Linked DNA regions of Homo sapiens. The gene in region 4 interacts genetically with the main gene of each other region. Each region holds a gene or a part of one and is shown on either strand. Other genes may lie near its edges.

Region 1 (3,500 bases), about 53 Mb from region 4:
TTTTCATCTTTCAAGACTCTTTTTTAGTTGTTAGCAATTAAGTGATACTTGTGAGGTCTATATTTGTAATGCTGTATTCAAGGTAAAATTGATCAAGATCCAAGTAACACACTTTTAAAACATGTTTCACACCAGAAAGGATACTTGACAAATGTCTCCACAACCACTGGCAGATCTATGCTTAGAAAGTTAAAACGTGGGATAAAACTGGTGATGCTCACTGAAAAAGAAAAATAAGGAATAATAAATATTATTCATACCAGAGAATCAACAGCATTATGAATTCTACCATATGGTTAAAAATTGGGCTAGCAGATTAAACTGATTGAGAAAGCCCTTCCTAAACATATGCAGGCCATATACCTCATATATAAAAGCAATCAATACTTCTAGAACATCTAATAAAAACAGCAGAATGAAAAAATACGTCCCAGTGTGTACTTACATTTTGAGGCGAGAGTAAGAAATTTACATTAAGAGTCCTTACCCTTTCAAAGAGGTATAACCTTAAAATTACATTTACTCCTACTATTATACTACTTAACCTCTTTCAGGTCTTTTTTTTTTCTTCATGGCTAAACCAAGGATTAAGATGAGGGGATTTAAAGTCTCATCTACTCTGTGGATTCCATAATCCTGTTTTTGTTCAAAACATTTTAAAACTATCCTGTAATTAGTCAGAACTCACAGTACACATTCCTGAATTACCCCCACTAGGGACATTTATTCATTTGTTGAGGTTTTATTTCATAGTTACAGTCTACAGTAATTTAGTGTCAAACTAATAGATAAGAAAAATGACCTCGGTTGTATCTCAGGATATGACTATGGAGCAATGAGAGAGTCTTTTAAAGAGTGACATAGGCTGGGTGCGGTGCCTCACGCTGTAATCCCAGCACTTTGGGAGACCAAGGCGGGCAGATCACCTGAAGTCAGGAGTTTGAGACCAGCCTGACCAATATGGTGAAACCCTGTCTCTACCAAAAATACCAAACATTAGCTGGGCGTGGTGGTGGGCACCTGTAATCCCAGCTACTCTGGAGGCTGAGGCAGGAGAATTGCTTGAACCCGGGAGGCAGAGGCTGCAGTGAGCCGAGATTGCGCCATTGCACTCCAGGCTGGGCAACAAGAGCGAAACTCCGTCTCAAAAAAAAAAAAAAAAAAAAAGAATAACATAAAACCCACATATCCATTAACTATGAATGAATAAAGAAAATGTGGTCTATCCATACAAAGGAATATCATTTGGCCTTAAAAAGAATGAAGTACTAATTCATGCCACAACACAGATAAACCTTGAAAACATTAAGCTACATCAAAGAAGCTAGTCATAAAATATTCCATTTATATGAAATGACAAGAACAGGCAAATTTATAGAAACAGAAAGTAGATTGGAGATTGCCAAGGGCTGGGGGTGTTGGGGAGATACAGGGAGTGACTACTTAATGGTTATGGAGTTTCTTTTTGGGGTGATGAAAATATTCTGCAGCTAGCTTGTGGTAATGGTTGCACAACTCAATATATTAAAAATCACTGGGCCGGGCACAGTGCCTCTTGCCTGTAATCCCAGCACTTTTGGAGGCTGAGGAGGGAGAATTGCTTGAGCTCAGGAGTTTGAGATCAGCCTGGGTAACAAAGTGAGACTCCGTCTCTACAAAACCCAAAAAATTAGCCCAGCACAGTGGAACACGTCTGTAGTCCCAGCTACTTGGGAGGCTGAGGTGGGAGGATCACTTGAGCCCGAGGTGTGGAGGTTGCAGTGAGCCAAGATTGAGCCACTGCATTCCAGTCTGGGCGACAGAGTGAGAATCTGTCTCAAAACAAAACAAAAACAAACAAACAAACAAAACCCCACTGAACTGTAAACTTTAATGGGTAAATCGCATGGTAAACTATTTTAAAAATCTTGTACAACAAAATGAGTTAGACTACATGATCTTTAGCCATAAAGAACTTAGTCCAATGATGCTGCCACTGCTAAAATGATTATGCTGGCCCAGTTTTGAAAGTATATTCATATGAAAGTCATGTGTCACACATAAATTACAGTTACATCCCCATGCATCCTGGCATTCTCTAGGGTATGTTGCTCTTGCCTGTTTTGGGGAGCTTGTATAAATTTAATAAACTCTCAGAGGACATCTGAGAGATCACCTATTTGACCTGGGCATAAATGGTAGGGAAGGAAAAATGTGTCACTCTCCATAGGCAGGCATGGATTCAGCTCCACCTTACTTTATAAATTCAGATTATTTTCCTACTGCATAATTTTCACTTAATGCTTAAGAACAAGTTAACAAGACTTTGATAAATGATCAAATTTATAATAAATGTATTAATTCAAGGATTTGTAGTGAGTCTCTACCACTGAGACTATATGTGATCTTAATGATTTTCTAAGGGTCTACCACAAAAATACTCACCTGTGTAGTGAAGATGCAGAGGATGTCCTACGTATAACATATCAATCTGAGGTGGGTGTTTTACTTTTATTAAGCGAGTGTGAGTTTCCAAAGAAGGTATTATACAGAAACTTGAACTTGAGCTTTTTTTACAGTCTTTATTGGTTCTGCAAACTTGAGTTGCTTCAACTGCTTTCCGGGCAGGAAGACATGTATGCTATAAATAAAATATTAATCAGTCAATATTAAAAATGATTAAGAAAAACCTAAGTTACATTCCTTCAATATTTTTCATGTCACCTAGCATATCAGGAATGAGGTTCATATAAAAGAAATGCCATTTATGTGCATCTACTATAAAATAGATTCAAGTACCCCATTTGGGTCAAATAAGATATTATCACTATAAATTTTTAAAGATTTTCAGATGAAATGTGACATGTGAAATGTAGAGATTTTAATAAAATGATACAAATAGAGCAAAAGAGAGAAGTTTCCATAGATTCCATTTTAGCTCTATATGCTTATTTTTTAGTAATTATATCAGACAAGCAAGACTGCTTCAGGGACAACTTACCAAACGCTTATTAAAATTATTTCTGTAGGAAAAGCACACATCTGTGAGGCTGTGATTGTTACAGCATTCAGTTGAACCATCTAGTCGTTTGTATGCTAAAGAGAAATACACTGTTTATTAGAGTCTCTTATATAAAAATACATTTGTAACAAAAAATGCCTTTAAGACAAAAAGAATAAGTAAAATGGCATATGAATTTAGAAGCAACTGTATAATTCAGAGTTCAGCTTGAGGGCTACTTGCTGCAGTTTGATTTTACATTACCAAAAGAGATCCATTCAATTTTAAATCATGAAGCAGCAGTTACCCTAGGTTAGTTGTCCTCATATAAACTGAGCTACCCATAAAGCCGGAGTTGCAGTGTCTCAGTAGGTTTCACAATAATAAGTCTGGCTGGTCAAGCACAAACATTTAATGAACTACTATTATGTGCCTGAATGCCAATGATCCAACATTACTGCTGAACCCCTGCACTGTGGTGCTGGTAAACAGAGGGGGCCAGAGGTTGCCTAAGACATCC
Region 2 (3,500 bases), on a different chromosome or scaffold from region 4:
AATCTCGGCTCACCGCAACCTCTGCCTCCCAGGTTCAAGCAATTCTCCCGCCTCAGTAATCCCGAGTAGCTGGGATTACAGGCATAAGCCACCACACCTGGCTAATTTTTTTTTGTATTTTTAGTAGACACGGGGTTTCTCCATGTTGGTCAGGCTGGTCTCAAACTCCTGACCTCAGGTGATCCGCCCACCTCGGCCTCCCAAAGTGCTGGGATTACAGGCGTGAGCCCACCGTGCCCGGCCTGAATTTTTTTATTTTAATTTTTAGATACAGGGTCTCACTCTGTTGCCCAGGCTGGAGTGCAGTGATGCGATCACAGCTCACTGCAGCCTCAATCTCCTGGGCTCAAGCGATCCTCCCACAGGTTAGACCACTGGTGTGTGCGACCATGCCCAGGGATTTTATTTTTTTTGTGGAGACAGGGGTCTCAATATTGCCCAGGCTGGTTTTGAACTCCAGGGCTCAAGTGATCCTCCTTCCTTGGCCTCCAAAAGTGTTGGGATGACAGGCATGAGACACTGTACCCAGCCAATAAAATGTTCCATTCTGTTCCTTGGCCACAGCAGCTCTACTTCAAGTGCTCAATACTCACAGGTGGCCGGGCACAGTGGCTCACGACTATAATCCCAGCATTTTGGGAGGCTGAGGTGGGCGGATCACCCGAGGTCAGGAGTTTGAGACTAGCCCGGCCAACATGGTAAAACCTCGTCTCTACTAAAAATACAAAAATTAGCCGTGTGTGGTGGCACGTGCCTGCAATCCCAGTTACTTGGGAGGCTGAGGCATGAGAATCACTTGAACCTGGGAGGTGGAAATTGCAGTGAGCTGAGATCGTTCCATTGCACTCCAGCCTGGGTTGACAGAGCCAGACTCTGTCTCAAAAAAAGAAAGAAAAAAAAAAACCTCGCAGGGGTAGTGGGGCAGGATAGAAGTGCTGACCTCAAGAACCCAGGTGGGCCTGTGGACAGGACTTTCCACCCCTGCCAGCGCCCACAGCAGACATCACCAGTTGCTCACAGCACTTCCCCCTAGGCCCTGCAGCAGCCTGGGGAAGAGGCTGATGACACCAGGCACACAGGTAAGGAGCTGACACGCTTCAGGCCTTTGGTTAGCTTCGCTGACTGTCCCTACAGCGGGAGGGCAGGTGGCACCGCCAAGAGCCTGCCCACCTCGGAAGCTGACTCCTTGTGCCACCAGGCAGGCAGGACGGCCTAGGTTGGGGGATCAGGGTGGCCAACAGGCTGTTTCCTGTCCTGCAACCACTGGTACCAACCTCCCAGGCTTGGTGGGAAGAAGCCAGGGCTGGAAGGTGTCTTGGTAACCGCTGGAGGCTTTGGCACAGGGGACACGGGCTGGGGCTGGACCTGGGTTCCAACCCTGTCTCCTTCCTGAGCAGCTACAGGCTCCAGCGAATTTCCTGTGCCTCTCCCATCCCAGAGTCTTCCGAAGACCTCTGGGAGGAAAAGCACCCTCTATGTTCCATTAGAATTGAGTTCCAGACAGGCCAGACCCTTCCTAAGGGGCTCAGGGTGGGAGATGACTCTTCGGAGAGGCCGCAGGAACGGCTCAAGGGAGCCCGTGGGGGAGGCAGCTGTGGCCGCCCTGCGTGACGCACGGACTCACTTTCACCTCCTCCGTGACCTGGAAGTCCTCGTGGACAACGTTCTCTACCTCCACCATGAGCACCTCAGCCGGGAGCTCAGGGGTGGGCTCCATCGCCAGCTCCGCCGGGTGCCTGGCGCTCAGCTCGTCCTCCGCCTCCTTCTTGCCCCGCTTTGACTTCCTGCGGGGCTTGTGCTTGTTCTCCGCCTCCGGCTCCTCGGGCTCCACCTCCAGCTGTCTGCTGATATGGACTCTGACACGGGAGCAAGGCAGGTGTGAATCAGCCGCTGAGGCTGGGAGCTGGACCCGGCTGAGGCCTCCCTGGTGGCACAGGTGGTCCAAGGGTCCCGCTGAGCCCAGACCTCTGGAGCCACAGGGTGGCTACAGGGTCCTCAAGCTGGAGACGTGAGCCGCTTTCTCGGGGCCTCCCAACCAGTGTCCCCTCCACCCCTTAGACTCCAGCCAGATTCAGGCATTCCCTGCATCCCACGCCAATGCATCACTGTCCCCATCCTAAGTATCGTGGATAAGCTGCAGTGACAAGCCCCAGGGCCTCCTGTCGAAAACGGTGTCAGCCTGGCCGGGCACAGGCTGGTCTCCAAGACTCTGTGCCCTGGACTCAGCTCATAGCAGCTCCTTCCTGTTGTTCAGGTCTCGATTTCAAGGACACCATCGCAAAGACTGTCCCCAAGCACTTCACAAAAGCTACCCACCTCCACCTCTCACGCTGTCTGCGTCTCCCCTCAGAGCACCTGGCACCACCTGAACTCAGGGTCTCGCTCTGTTGCCCAGGCTGGAGTGCAGTGGTGTGATCATAGCTCACTGCAGCCTTTACCTCCTGGGCTCAAGCAATCCTCCTGCCTCAGCCTCCCAAGTAGCTGGGACTACAGGAACACGCCGTCACATCTAACTTTTTATTATTTTTTATAGAAACAGGGTCTTGCTGTGTTGCCCAGGCTGGTCTCAAACTCCTGGGCTTAAGCGATCCTCCCACCTCAGCCTCTTGCGTAGCTGTGACCACAGGCATGAGCCACCACATCCAGCTAATTTTTCTACATTTTTTGCAGAGATGGGATCTCGCTACGTTGCCCAGGCTGGACTCAAACTCCGGGCTCAAGCGATCCAATTGCCTTGACATCCCAAAGTGCTGGAATTCCAGGCAGGAGTCACCATGCCTGGCCCTGCAGCTCACCCCTTTCTGAGACAGGAGGGGTCCAGAGGTGACATGTCTCACTCTCACCCCCAGCTCTGGCCTCAGTGCTAGTGAGAAAGCCGCTGGGCTGACGGACAGGGCAGAGGCTGATGCTGGGGCATAAGGCATCCTGGCTGGTCTCCCGCGTGGTACTCTGCCCCCACCTCCCACTGTCCCCCGCCAGCCACCCACCTTCTGTGTCCCATGACGATCATGCGCAGCTTGTCCCCAAGGTCCTGCATCTCATGGATCTGGGCAAACGTCCCCGTGTGGTAGATTTCATCCAGGCTCTCGACCACATCCGACTCATTGCTGTGGGAGAAGAGCACAGAGGAATGTTGGAACATGGCTTTCATGCTAGGCAGGATGTCTCTGGCTGAGATGGAGGAGGGAGAGAAAAGAAACGCCCCTACCAAATGCTACTGAAAACCAAGAGCGGCCTCCTTGGCTCCCGCAGGAGCTCCAGAGCCTAGGGGAGCTTCTGCCAGGCCAGGGCTGCCCCAGTGGTCACAGGACCGGGTGGGTGGCTCCTCGCTAAGTCAGCCACAAAGACATGGTCCAGGTGGGACTTTGATGAGTCTCTTCTATGCTATCACAGAGCCTGCTTCGAATGCATGCATGGAACTCTTTTTTTCTTGAGATGGAGTTTCGCTCTTGTTGCCCAGGCTGGAGAGCAATGGTGTAATCTCAGCTCACTGCAACCTC
Region 3 (4,152 bases), on a different chromosome or scaffold from region 4:
AGCCTCCCAAGTAGCTGGGATTACAGGTGCCTGCCACCATGCCTGGCTAATTTTTGTATTTTTAATAGAGACGGTGTTTCTCTATGTTGGCCAGGCTAGTCTCGAACTTCCAACCTCAAGTGATCCACCCACCTTGGCCTCCCAAAGTGTTGGAATTACAGGTGTGAGCCACCATGCTCAGCCTGGAGACACTTTTCATTGTCACAGGAGAGGTACTGCTGGCATTTAATGGGTACAGCCCAGATTGTGCTAAATGTCCTACAATGCACAGGACAGCCCCCCACAACAAAGAGTGATCCTGCCCCAAATGTCAGCAGTGCTGAGGTTGAGAAACTCTGATAGACAGCAGGCACATACTAAGTATCTGCCAATGAAACTATCTTATTTCAAATCCTTAAAACAATACACGAGGTATAAAGGAAATTAAAAAGTCTCATGACTGGCCAAACTCAAGTGAAAGTTAAGCCTGGAAACCTCCCAACACTGCTGTCCTCCTCCCCATCAACAGACAGCTGTTACTTCCCAACCTTGTGTCAAAGCATTCTACATTAACCAGACACCTGCAAAAGGCCAAAGGCCCCATGCAATCCATTGTGGGATGACTGCCCTCACAAGTTGCTCCTAAGGAACTCCTTTGCTGGCCCCTAAATCTTTGAAGATGAGTATCCTCCCATAAACAAGGACATGCCAACTGTAACTTTAGGACTGTAACCTCAGTCTAACTCCTTCCCTATTACTGATGTCTGTTAAACGCCACACTGACCATGTCCATTACAAGCTTATCCTCCCACATGCCAAACAAAGATGGGATGAGATAGTCCTTCCTCTCCTACCCTGAGACGTCTGCCTAATTAATTCTTCCTTTATTCCCTCTTTTGAATGTTTACTTTATTTTCTGAATAGTGTAGATATACTGGGCACGAATTAAAACCTCACAAGAATGTAACTACCTGCCACGAGGCCTACTGCACTTTTTCCTGCATGCTTTTTCCCCTTTTAATGAAATATATAAACACCAGCCTTCTGGAACCACTCCATCGAGCACAGGCCACAGATGTTTCTGTCACTTGTATTTTCCAGGGCACGCCCTCAAGCTCTGGCCCAATAAACCTCCACTGAGGCTCAGTTCAGTCTCTCCATTGCATTGACAGAGATAACTATTTTTCTCTTCATTTTTTTTTTTCTTTGAGACAGGGTCTCACTCTGTCACCCAGGCTGGAGTGCAGTGGCACGATCTCAGCTCACTGCAACCTCCACCTCCCGGGTTCAAGTGATCCTCCCACCTCAGCCTCGAGGGCGGGCATGCACCACCATGCTGGCTAATTTTTGTATTTTTAGTAGAGACAGGTTTCACCATGTTGGCCAGGCTGGTCTCGAACTCCTGACCTCAAGTGATCCATCCACCCGCCTCGGCCTCCCAAAGTGCTGGGATTACAGGCGTGAGCCACTGCACCCGGCCTGTCTCCATTTTTGATGAGGAACCAGAAGCTCAGAGAGGTTAGGACTATTGCTGAAGGTCACACCGCATGGATCCAAGAATCAAATCCAAGTCTCTCTCTGAACTCCTTCAAGATTCTCCCCCTTGGCCAGGTGCAGTGGCTCATGCCTGTAATCCCAGCACTTTGGGAGGCCCAGGCAGATGCATCACTTGAGGTCAGGAGTTCGAGACCAACCTGGTCAACATGGTGAAACTCTGGTTCTACTAAAAATATAAAAATTAGCCAGCCGTGGTGGCAGGCGCCTGTAGTCCCAGGTACTCGGGAGACTGAGGCACGAGAATCGCTTGAACCTGAGAGGTGAAAGTTGCAGTGAGCCGAGATCACACCACTGCACTCTGGTCTGGGCTACACAGCAAGACTCTGTCTAAAAAAAAAGGGGGAAAAAAAAGAAAAAAAAATATTGTCCTCCTGCCTCCTGCTTTTTAAGGTCCTTCTGAGCAGGCTCCCTGGGTCCTCTCATCCTGGAATCTGTGCTTCACAGCACTTAAAGCTGCGGTGGTTTAGTTGCTAGCTCACGTGTTTGTTTCCCCAGTAAAGCTAAACTCCACTAGAGCAGTGACCACGCCTGATCCCCAGCTGTGTCCCCAGGACAGCACCAAACCTACGAGGCGATCAACACATTTCTGCTGAATGAGTGGGAGAATCACTCCTCAAAAGGAAGAAAATTGTGTCAAGAAAGTAGCTGGCAGAGCCAGGATGTAAGTCCGAAGACTCCCCGACTTCGAAGCTTATCCCGTTTTTCTCTGCGGTCTGTTATTGTCACTCAAACCTCTGGCCCCGACCCTCTTAATTAATGTCCCTTTCGACTCCGCGCCGGTCAGTCTCCACCCTCCATCCGCGCCAGGTCCTTCGCGCTCGCCTTCTAAAGGCCTCGTTCCTGTCAGTCATTCCAAGCTCCGCCCTCACCCTGCCCACTTTCCACGCCCCGCCCCTTCTGGGCCCCACCCCTCTCCGAATACAATACCTTCTAGCCTGCCGCTGTCAGTCATTCTGCAGATCCCGCCCCCTCCCTCCCACGCCCCGCCTTTTCCGGGCCTGCGCCTCTAAGTTCCTGTTGAGGCCTTGCCCTTTTCTCACCCGTGTCCGGAGTGGCCCCCGCTCCAGAAGCGCACAGCCGCTGGTTGGGGCATCCCTGACATGAAGCCCCTCTGCCCGCCTGGGCGCTGTCGGCCCCTGGACAGTCTGCGCAGAGACAAGACCACAGTTAGAGCAGCTCCCGACACTTTCGCCCCGCGACCCACGCCCCCTCCGCGAGCTTACCGTGAGGCACCTCCTCCATTCCGTCGCCTTTGCCGCCTTCGTGGTCACCGGAACCCGCTGTCGTACATTTCCGCCTTGTGGGCACAATCTGATTCTCCGACCGCGCGAAATAAGTCTCGGAAAGGGGGCTGTGCGCACGCGCGAACCTTGGGCCGAAAGACTGGGACTCAACGTCTGTTCCTTTTCAGAGATTTCCTATCATAAATACTTCTGCAGTGCATCTCCTAAGAACAAAGCCATTCTTCATGACATCAGTGCCATTTTCATACCCAAGAGATTTAATATCGATGCAGTACTAGCCAATGCAGTATTAGCCAATAGACAGTTTATATTTCAATTTCAGTTGTTAGACCCCCTCCCCTGCTGGATTCACTCACTGCCTGGAGTTATTTCTCTTCGGTCTCCTTTAATTCAGATCAGTCCTTCTTTTTTTAGGGGGGGTCTCATCACCTTGATAATTTTGACGGGTCCAGACCAGTTGTGTAATAGAATATCCCATATTCTTGATTTGTCTAATCCTCCCCTCCCTCTTGCCTTGTAATTAGATAAAGGTTAATTTTTCTTTTTTCCTGCAGAACACACTTGGATAATGTCAGTTTGTCCCGTTTTTGGTAATGTGAAGCTTGATCGCTTGCTAAAGGTGGTGTCTGCCCCATTTCTCCATTTAATGTTTCCTTCTTCCATTTGTAATTAACAGGTACTCTCTGGGACCATCTTCTTCTCTATCAGCCTTTCACTCAGTGATTTTAGCAGCATTTATATATATATATATAAAACTATAGATTATATATATGATAAATATATATCAGTTTTATACCCTCTCTTTTTTTCTTTTTTTTCGAAGACTCACTATGGATTCCTGGATTTTTTAAAATTGTCTTTTATAATCAATTATTATTCTTTCTGGTCGATTTTTTTTCCCCCAGATGTGGCCAGTGAAGCCCCTTCAAGACAGTTCTTATGTTCTTTGGGCACTAATCCAGCTTCTTTGAGCATTTTCTTGCTTTCTGATACAAGATGTTTCAGTCATCCCTTCTCCCTGCTGCAGTCATTTCTTCAGGGAGCCTTGGTTACTTTTTAGCAGACAACAGTTCAGAAACCAAGATGTGGATGCCACAAATGCTCATTGCTACTGGAGTGTCATTGCTCACAGGTTTGGCACCTGGAATATTAATGAGTGAACAAACTTTACCTAGCCCCAGACACTAAGAATATGGAAACGTTTATTTATTTATTTATTTTTGAGGCGGATTCTCGCTCTGTCACCCAGGCTGGAGTGCAGTGGTGGGATCTCGGCTCACTGCAAGCTCCGCCTTCTGGGTTCACGTCATTCTCCTGCCTCAGCCACCCGAGTAGCTGAGACTACAGGCCACCACGCCCGGCTAATTTTTTG
Region 4 (3,500 bases):
TTTCAGGGAACGGACTGACCTTTGAACTAACATTTGAAAAATAGGCACCAGTTAGAGAGAGGGCATTTCAGACATAGGGTGTGGCATAAAAAAAAGAACAGACACAAAAAAGCACATGGTCCAAGGAACAGGGAACAATATAGGGTGACTGGAGGGACAGGGTATTTGTAGAGAAACAGTTTACAATATGGCTAGCAATCTAGTTAGGTGGAAATTTTTAAGGCTAAGATATAAAGCCCACTGAAGTTTATGCAGGGAAGTGATGGGATAAAAGTCATGCCTTAGGAAGAATAATCTAGATGTGCTGTATAGGATGGATTGAAAGGGCAAGTCCCTGAAAGCAGGGACAAAACCCATGCATAAAGTAATAAGGGTCTAAAACTAGGGCAGAAGTTAAGGGACTGAAAAGGACAGAAGAGGCCATTGCTACTACAAAGAAATGTTCATCTACCTAACCGGATTACTGTGAAGACCAAATGACATTAAATAAAGACTTGAAAAGTATCTTTACTCACTAGTGGCAAATCCTACAAGGGAGTCAAGAGAGCACAGATGAGGACTTCAGGGAGATGGATTTCAGGAAAGGAAGGAGAAAATCAAAACAACAAAAATATCACATTTTGCAGGTAACTATATATACCTATTAACATTACTAAAATCTTAAGTAATTAAAAGACCTAATTTTGGTCAAGACTGAGCACCAAGAAAAAAAATGCTCACAAGTAAAAACAGAATTTAAAATTATCCCAATAATGTAAAAATTATGTACATGAAAGAACAGAGATTCAAAGGAAAAAGGAAAAATTATTTAACATGTGGGATTGTAGATATCTGTCTTGACGTTTTTATTAGATGTGGTTTTGTATAATTAAAATGGGGACAATGTAAAGCATAAGAATCGTATACAGAATGGGCAATTTTATCTCTTATTATATACCTTATTTTACAATATGGGAAAGAACATACTTTTCTTTGAAAAAGCAAAATCTTTAAGATAACACTGACAACAATACAGCAATAAATGATATTAATTTTATAACAATTGTATAACAATAATTAAATGATCAATTATGCATTTATCATTTAATCAAAATTTTGATGTAAGTTTCCACTCTATTTCTACCCCGCTGCCCAGTGACAAGTGCTCTTTATCTTGCCACTGGCTACTCAGGAACACCATTAGAAACCCACCAGCCAGCAATATTGTATTAATCAGGGATTACTGACTGGAAGAGGGGATAGGTTTCTGATTCCCCTGAAATTGCATGCAAAATGAAGCACATACGTATGTATATTTTTCTAGGGAGAAGGTCTATGGCTTTGATCAGATTCTCAAAGGGCCTCGTGTTCTAAAAGAAAGTTTAGAAACATGAAATTTTCTTCCTCTTCCTAATAATCTTAATAACTAGTTAAAACCAATGTGTCAATGACTTAGAGAATGTTATTTATTCAACTATATCTGAAAAAAGAATCCCCTGAATTCCTCTTCTCAAGTCCCAGTGCCACTTTCCATTCCTTACCATATACAGCCCATGTAAGGTATATCTTTATTTACAACTTTTATAGCATTACTGTTATTCTTCACCACCCCTTAGAATCTATTTCTACCATCCCAGATGATTTCGGAACCTAGCTTACTTTTTCCTCCACACTACTTCCATCCTCCCAACACTACCAAATACTAAGCTCATAATTAAATTACATTTTTCTATTCCTACTCTTAGATATACAAATATGACAAGAACAATACAAATTTGTCCCATTAAAAATTCATGTGAACATAAACTTACCCTATGTTGCTCCTGAATACTACACCAGTAGTAAACTAGGATCACAAAGTAGAGGTACTATATAAAAAGGGCTGGTCCTAAAGGATTACAGTAAAGAAACAAGAGAGTTGCAAGAAACCTTAGAGATCTGGTAGTCAAATATTACTAGTTTACAGGATCTGATGTCCAAAAGAACAAGTTATGTGTCCAAGATAATTAACAGTACAAATAGAGCTCAGGCGGTCAAGTGTCCTGGTCCAGTGTTCATCCCACAATACCAAGTTATGCCCTTTGCACACCAGTTATTTCATTATTTTTAACATTTAGAAATAAAAATCTTTTAAGTCATCTGTATTTTCTTTACAGTAAGGCTTACTCCTACCTCAAGACCTCTTAATAGTATTCAATATCATTCCTTCCAAGCTTACTGTGTGAGAACAATGTAGGGGACAATTAAAAGCCGTGTTGAAATCAAGATAGACTGTCACTCACTCATATGAATAATTGGTTTGGTATGTCTTGCTCTTTTCAAAACCAAGCTGGCTGCTTCCTAACAGCTCGTATTTTTCTAATGACAGCAAATTATTGTTTAATAATTTTAAAAGTCTTTATTGGTCTCCTAATAAAAGGACTATGCTTTTAACATTTGTGTCCCCCTAAAATTCCTATATTGAAACTTAATCACCAATGTGATGGTATTAAAAGGTGGAGTCATTGGGAGGTGATTAGGACTTGGAGAGTAGAGCTCTCATAAACAGGATTAGTTCCCTTATAAGAGGGGCCAAAGAGCTGCCTTGTCTCTTCTACCACATGAGGACACAGCTAAAAGGCACCGCCTATGAACCTCAAGACCTCACCAGACACTAAATCTGTCAGCACCTTGAACTGTGAGAAATAAATTGCTCTTGCTTATAAGTCATGTAGTTTATGGTATTTTGTTATACCAGCCCAAACAGACTAAGATAGACTATTAGTCTAAGAAATTATTTCTCATATGCACATTAAATCCCTCTTCCTGCAAATGAAGTCCACATCTTTGTATCATAACCTAATGTTCCAGTTAAGTTTAGGCATCACTGAACTACAAATAACCCCTTCAGGTCCTTTTTTTTTTTTCTTTTTTTTGAGAGGAAGTCTCGCTCTGTCGCCCAGGCTGGAGTACAGTGGCGCGATCTCGGCTCACTGCAACCTCCGCCTCCAGGGTTCAAGCAATTCTCCTGTCTCAGTCTCCTGAGTAGCTGTAGTCACAGGTGCACGTGACCATGCCCAGCTGCTTTTTGTATTTTTAGTATGGACGGGGTTTCACCATATTGGTCAGGCTGGTCTCGAGCTCTTGACCTCAGGTGATCCACCTGCCTTGGCCTCCTAAAGTGTTAGGATTACAGGCATGAGCCACTGGGCCAGGCCGCTTCAGGTACTTTAAATGTCACTGAATCACCTCTCACCCTTTTCAGTTCCATGATCTATAATCCACTTAAAGACACCCTTATTTCTCTTGTAAGTTCTGTTTTTGTTGTTGTTGTTTGTTTGTTTGCTTGTTTTTGAGACGGAGTCTTGCTCTGTCGCCCAGGCTGGAGTGCACTGGCGCGATCTTAGCTCACTGCAAGCTCCGCCTCCCGGGTTCACGCCATTCTCCTGCCTCAGCCTCCCGAATAGCTGGGACTACAGGAGCCCGCCACCATGCCCGGCTAATTTTTTTTGTATTTTTAGTACAGACGAGGTTTCACCATG

What was found. Genes that interact genetically often act in the same process or in processes that back each other up.
Region 1: changes in ABCB7 (region 4) and MBTPS2 together harm fitness less than expected from each alone (positive genetic interaction), as found in Homo sapiens cells (one large-scale study listed by BioGRID).
Region 2: changes in ABCB7 (region 4) and LONP1 together harm fitness more than expected from each alone (negative genetic interaction), as found in Homo sapiens cells (one large-scale study listed by BioGRID).
Region 3: changes in ABCB7 (region 4) and NUBP1 together harm fitness more than expected from each alone (negative genetic interaction), as found in Homo sapiens cells (one large-scale study listed by BioGRID).

The regions. Positions count from the first base shown.
Region 1 is NC_000023.11:21,877,617-21,881,116, reverse strand, and holds part of MBTPS2 (membrane-bound transcription factor site-2 protease), read right to left. Parts: intron 3,076-3,500; coding exon 2,981-3,075; intron 2,621-2,980; coding exon 2,425-2,620; intron 221-2,424; coding exon 145-220; intron 1-144. UniProt on the Homo sapiens protein: Zinc metalloprotease that mediates intramembrane proteolysis of proteins such as ATF6, ATF6B, SREBF1/SREBP1 and SREBF2/SREBP2.
Region 2 is NC_000019.10:5,710,147-5,713,646, forward strand, and holds part of LONP1 (lon protease homolog, mitochondrial isoform 1 precursor), read right to left. Parts: intron 3,108-3,500; coding exon 2,988-3,107; intron 1,857-2,987; coding exon 1,625-1,856; intron 1-1,624. UniProt on the Homo sapiens protein: ATP-dependent serine protease that mediates the selective degradation of misfolded, unassembled or oxidatively damaged polypeptides as well as certain short-lived regulatory proteins in the mitochondrial matrix.
Region 3 is NC_000016.10:10,742,490-10,746,641, reverse strand, and holds the start of NUBP1 (cytosolic Fe-S cluster assembly factor NUBP1), read right to left. Parts: upstream 2,801-4,152; 5' UTR 2,779-2,800; coding exon 2,760-2,778; intron 2,682-2,759; coding exon 2,577-2,681; intron 1-2,576. UniProt on the Homo sapiens protein: Component of the cytosolic iron-sulfur (Fe/S) protein assembly (CIA) machinery. Required for maturation of extramitochondrial Fe-S proteins.
Region 4 is NC_000023.11:75,149,784-75,153,283, forward strand, and holds part of ABCB7 (iron-sulfur clusters transporter ABCB7, mitochondrial), read right to left. Parts: intron 1-3,500. UniProt on the Homo sapiens protein: Exports glutathione-coordinated iron-sulfur clusters such as [2Fe-2S]-(GS)4 cluster from the mitochondria to the cytosol in an ATP-dependent manner allowing the assembly of the cytosolic iron-sulfur (Fe/S) cluster-containing proteins and participates in iron homeostasis.